2 separate regions of the Homo sapiens genome follow, and region 1 is linked to region 2. A link means that fine-mapping ties the variant in region 2 to the expression of a gene that starts in the linked region. Tissue or cell type: whole blood. Region 2 holds a variant in brackets; the other region holds the start of a gene. All regions are shown on one strand. Distances are between the middles of the regions.

Region 1 (2,749 bases), 27 kb after region 2:
TTTCTATTGTCAGCGTCCTGGGGGTAGGGTTGTGTTATGCATTTAGTTGAACCTGAAGGGACTAGTCCAGGTCTCTCAGAAGGCAGTACCTAACTCACAGGCGACTGAAAGGAAACAAGGCCAGCGGAGCCCTGGCGGTGGCGAGGCTGTGCCAATTGCTAAATGGGGCAGCAGGACGTTTTTCTCTACTGAAGTGGCAATGCCGCGGAGCAGGAAGGCAGAGTAGCAGGTCTCCCGCTAGTGCGTCTCAACCGAAGAAGCGGCGTGATCTCTTCCTAAAACACACGAGGAAGGGGGCCTGGGCTGTGAGGCCGGCGTGGTTCTTGCACCCCTGGTCTCTATCCCTGCCTGGGCAACTGCTGGGAAGGAAGGGTCGGCAAGAGGCCTAAAGACCGGAGGCCAAGGGTGCGGAGCGCGGCCGGACTCAGAGGCGAGGACCCGGCGGAGAGGCCTGGGCGGAGCAGGGCGGGAGAGGCGCGCCCTGAGTAGGGCTCGGGGGAGGACGATGGCTGCCTCCTGCGGTCCTCCCCCTGCCTCGGGGGACGGCCCTTGGCAGACCGTCCCGGACTCCTAATTCATCCTGTTTTTAATAAAACCATTTCCAGAATCAAAAAGAGGGCGGTACCCAAAGGAGTCTGAAGAATGCCCAGCAGGGGCAGGGGAGCGGGGCGTGCCCGTATCGGGAGGCTGAAGGCTGACGGACCAGCGCAGCAGGGACAGATAACCGCGCCGGGGGGCGGAGGCCAGAGCCAGCCCCGCGCCCACAGGGTTGCGGCCCCAGACCCGCCGCGCGCACGCCCCCGCGCCTGGCGGCCACAGGGTCCGGAGCGGGGGCGGGGCCATCCGCGGCCGGGGGCGGGGCCGGGCGGGGGGCGCGCGGTTGGACCGGGCGGGAGGAGCAGGCTCTTCCATCTCCTGATTGGGTCTGGACCGCAAGGGGGCGGGGTCTTGAGGGGTTCTGCGGGCCGGCATTGGGAGCCGCAGAAGGAGGGCGTGGTAATATGAAGTCAGTTCCGGTTGGTGTAAAACCCCCGGGGCGGCGGCGAACTGGCTTTAGATGCTTCTGGGTCGCGGTGTGCTAAGCGAGGAGTCCGAGTGTGTGAGCTTGAGAGCCGCGCGCTAGAGCGACCCGGCGAGGGATGGCGGCCACCGGGACCGCGGCCGCCGCAGCCACGGGCAGGCTCCTGCTTCTGCTGCTGGTGGGGCTCACGGCGCCTGCCTTGGCGCTGGCCGGCTACATCGAGGTGGGGACCGGGCGAACGCCGGAGAGTCGTCTCCTTCGCCCGCCGGAGGAGCGCGGACTGCGGGCGGGCAGCGGGGTCCGCGGCAGGGCGGGCCGGCGGTGCGGCGCCGGGGGTCCGGCTCTGCGGCGGGTCTGGCGCGCCCTCCCCCGCCCGTCCCTGCTTGGCGCAGTGCTTAGCGCTGGAGGTCGGGCTGCCTCAGCCGCCGCAGAGGCCAAATGAAAGGCGTCGGGGCTGCTGGGGGCGGCCGTCCGCCTCGGCCGACCCAGCCCCCAACCCGCCCGCGGCGCCGCCACCTCCTCCGGGGACCCAGTGCCCCCGGGCGCCCGCCCCGCCCTCCCCCGGGACAATGCCAGGGCGCTCCTCTCCCGCCGGAGTCCGCGGCTGGGCTTTCTCCAGGGGCGGCCCCGCGCGGACCCCGTACGCTCCCTCGCGCGGCACCGGGGCCTCGGCTCCGGGCCTCCCACCTGCGAGCGGCGGGCTTCGCCTTTGTTGCCAGGTGGACGCGGCCCCGGCCTTCGCGCGCGGCAGGGATGCTGCGAGCCCCGGGGGAGCTCCCGCGCCAGGCCGCCCGCTGCTCCCTCTGCCGCCTGGGGCCGGGTCGCGGACGCGCATTTTTTAAGTGGCGCTGTTTGCCTGCGTCCGTAGACCGAGGAAACCCGCTCTGGGTGCGTTGACCGCTTTCGTGAGGGTTTCAGTGAGTAGGGAAGGTGCCCGCGAAGGCGTGTAAACTGTTGGAAAAATCGTCCTCTTCGGGTGTCAGAATTCCATCAGTGGTTGTGCTTCGAGGTCGCACCCTGAGCATCCCCGCTGCGAGAAAGGCGAAGCGGCAGGGCCGGGGGTTGGGGAGGCCGCGGGAGGGGGCGGGGGCGGCGGGGTCCGCGGTGCGGGCCGGAGCGGGCAGCCTTGGAGGAGCCCTGCTGTGGCCGAGGGAGACGGCGAGCTTGATCTTTACTTCCCTTCTCGAAGTGGTGCTTGAACTGCTGGTCTGGAATGTGTAGTTCTGGTGTCGTTTATTTCTTCTCCCTCTTCGCTCTTTTAAAAATTACAACTGGTTTCTGCATACTTAGCTAATTTCAGAGAGACCTGAAGACTGGATTTGATTGGGCATTAATTGAGAGCTTTCTTTTAAAGACCTCAGGTTTAGAATATATTTACTTCTACAGAATGTTCAAGTATTTCCACGGGTAAAAATAAATCTAATAAAAAGCCTCTCTGATGGAACGGCTTAACACCTTTGTATTCATCCAGTTTAAAGCTTTGTGACTGTGAGGGTAAGAAAGGAGTTCAGCTTTAAAGAGAAATAGTTAACGTTTATCTACAGAGGATTTTGGATTGCGATTGTTTCAGTGTGTCCACACAATGGTCAGAGTTGTATCTGTGATCCCTGATATGTCGCATGAAAACAGCTAGGTGAGTGAGATGGGAAGAAAAAATAAAGGCTTTCGTATGGAAGATGGGACTTCACTAGTGGGTCGGGTGTCAGAAACCATCGTTCACACTCGCAC
Region 2 (2,749 bases):
TGGGTTTGTGTAAGTGCACTCTAGGATGTTTGAACAATGATGAAATCACCTGATGATGCGTTTCCCAGACATATCCTGTTGTTCAGCAACGCATGACTGTACAGTGTACAGTGAAAATAAGCACGAGGAAGGCCAAATGGTCTTAGTTTGTGGATGGATGCTGTTGCCTAAAGAAGGCTTGCTCTCTCTCTGAGTAGGGACAGAAAGGAGGCTAAGCGTGAGAGAGGCGGCTTTGCCATACTAGATGCAATCACACTGGAGACCGGGGTCCACGGTCGAGAACAGAGAAGCGCTTTCGCATTTCCCGCTGTTCCGCAGAGCTGAAAGACTGAGGCCAGACACCTCCTCAGGGCTTATCACGGTGGCTCACCTGCTCCTGCGGCTTCATCATCATCCAGTCAGAGTCCGTGGAAGCGGAGCTGGAGATGCTGGGGATAGGGGTTGGGGTCGGGTGGCAGGTAGCATGACGTGGAGGTTCAGTGAGGGGCCTGGGAGAATTGCTGAGAATGGGATAGTCCGAAAGGCGCGGCTCGCAGCCTGTGGAGTGTGAGGGGACCTGGGGAGCCCAGTGTGCACCCCGTAGAGTTTGGATGTGTATGACCCTAATCGTGACCCCTAGGAATGGGAGCTGAGGGACAGTTGAAGTGGTCAAGCCCTGGTGACCCTCCCATGTCGGGGAACTGCACAGCTCACCAAAAAACTCACCCTCACACTGCCATGAGAGTCTGAACTCGGATTCCTGGACAAGCGGGCATCAGCAGCCAGGGAGGGGCCGTGCGGCCCAGAGAGGACCACAGGGCATCTCTTGTGGAGGGGGGCATGTGTTCCCTTCCCCGGAGGAGAAAGGAACCTAGAGGGATGCAGAAGGGCACCAGGCAAACACTAATTTGGATATGAAATTAAAAATTTAAACGACACTGGCTTTTTCTGGTAACTAAAACTGATCAGATATTTATGGGCTCTGCCCAAGAGGTAGTTAAGAGAAACTTACCTTTCCTCAAGTTAATGGCTTACCAAGAATATGGGAAATATTTGGAAAGAGGGAATAATCTTTCTTCCCTACAATGAGAGAGAGATTGAGTATGTGGAAGGTGGTAGTTAAAGAAAGTGAAATATTTCTTTTGCTACTCCATTTGATTCAGACTGTTCAGTCAATTGGGGAGAGAAGGATTAAAACAATTTCAAAATATTTCATTTTTGTACCCTGCCATTCAACTAATGCCTGTTATTGTAATATCTAAAATTATCTTTGATATCTGCTATATTTTGGGAAACTCTGCTCTAGGGGAAGTGAAGAGTTGCTCCCGGCCCCACCCTCCAACCCTGGGGTTGCCAGCGAAGGTACTGAAAGATGTGGGGTAGAATGGTGTCTAACCTGTTTCTCTTCTCAATCTTCAGCAACCTTTGTCTACCTTTTATACTTGACCAAAATGACCATTTTCTCTCCATTTATATTTTCCTCTCTTTTTAACCACAGAGCCACCAGCGTTCCAGCTTGTTATTTCCTCTTTCTGTTTTCCTCATTTGCTCTGTTTCTCTTCCCTCTTCCTGATTTCTTGATGCTTGCCTTTC[G/A]TTGGTCAGCAAGGGAGAAGTTTGCCCAACAGACTTTACTCTCCACTGACCGTTCTTAGGGCAAAATGAAAACCCCAGGCTGGAGCTGCCCAAGGCACTGTGAGAGGCAGTGCATCAGCCGGGTGCAAAATCTCCCGCCTGCAAAGCCAGGGGTGAAAGCCAGGCTGTGATTTCAGGTTCAGCCTCTTGTTAACTATTCAGCCTTGGGCAAGTCTCAACTTCTTTTTTTTTTTTTTTTTTTCCCAAGGAAGAAGAATTTTTCTTAGTACAGCACAAAATGAAAAGTCTCCCATGTCTACCTCTTTCTACACAGACACGGCAACCATCCGATTTCTCAATCTTCTCCCCACCTTTCCCCCCTTTCTATTCCACAAAACCGCCATTGTCATCATGGCCCGTTCTCAATGAGCTGTTGGGTACACCTCCCAGACGGGGTGGTGGCCGGGCAGAGGGGCTCCTCACTTCCCAGTAGGGGCGGCCGGGCAGAGGCGCCCCTCACCTCCCGGACGGGGCGGCTGGCCGGGCGGGGGGCTGACCCCCCACCTCCCTCCCGGATGGGGTGGCTGCCAGGCAGAGGCGCTCCTCACTTCTCAGATGGGGCGGCCGGGCAGAGACACTCCTCACTTTCCAGACGGGGTGGTGGCCGGGCAGAGGGGCTCCTCACTTCCCAGTAGGGGCGGCCGGGCAGAGGCGCTCCCCACATCTCAGACGATGGGCGGCCAGGCAGAGACGCTCTTCACTTCCCAGACGGGGTGGCGGCCGGGCAGAGGCTGCAGTCTCGGCACTTTGGGAGGCCAAGGCAGGCGGCTGGGAGGTGGAGGTTGTAGCGAGCCGAGATCACGCCACTGCACTCCAGCCTGGGCAACATTGAGCACTGAGTGAGCGAGACTCCGTCTGCAATCCTGGCACCTCGGGAGGCCGAGGCAGGCAGATCACTTGCGGTCAGGAGCTGGAGACCAGCCCGGCCAACACGGCGAAACCCCGTCTCCACCAAAAAAATACGAAAACCCGTCAGGCGTGGCGGCGCACGCCTGCAATCGCAGGCACTCTGCAGGCTGAGGCAGGAGAACCAGGCAGGGAGGTTGCAGTGAGCCGAGATGGCAGCAGGACAGTCCAGCTTCAGCTCTGCATCAGAGGGAGACCGTGGAAAGAGAGGGAGAGGAGGGAGAGGAGGGAG

Evidence for each region. PIP is the estimated chance that this variant, and not a neighbour inherited with it, causes the effect.
Region 1: it holds the start of APLP2, and the variant in region 2 is fine-mapped to the expression of APLP2 in whole blood (TOPMed, PIP above 0.99).

Annotation. Positions count from the first base shown.
Region 1 is chr11:130,068,839-130,071,587 of GRCh38, forward strand. APLP2 (amyloid beta precursor like protein 2) reads left to right here and starts at 1,056. Exons shown (of 17, transcript NM_001142276.2): 1 at 1,056-1,244. The coding sequence starts at 1,140. LOC107984432 (a long non-coding RNA gene) reads right to left here and starts at 811. Exons shown (of 2, transcript XR_001748444.2): 1 at 626-811; 2 at 1-275. RefSeq lists enhancers at 1-247, 248-748 and silencers at 665-894, 1,285-1,414, 1,485-1,944.
Region 2 is chr11:130,042,153-130,044,901 of GRCh38, forward strand. No RefSeq gene overlaps it. Among named protein-coding and RNA genes, the nearest start is that of APLP2, 26 kb to the right of the region's middle. The variant G/A (reference allele first, on the strand shown) is at 1,573.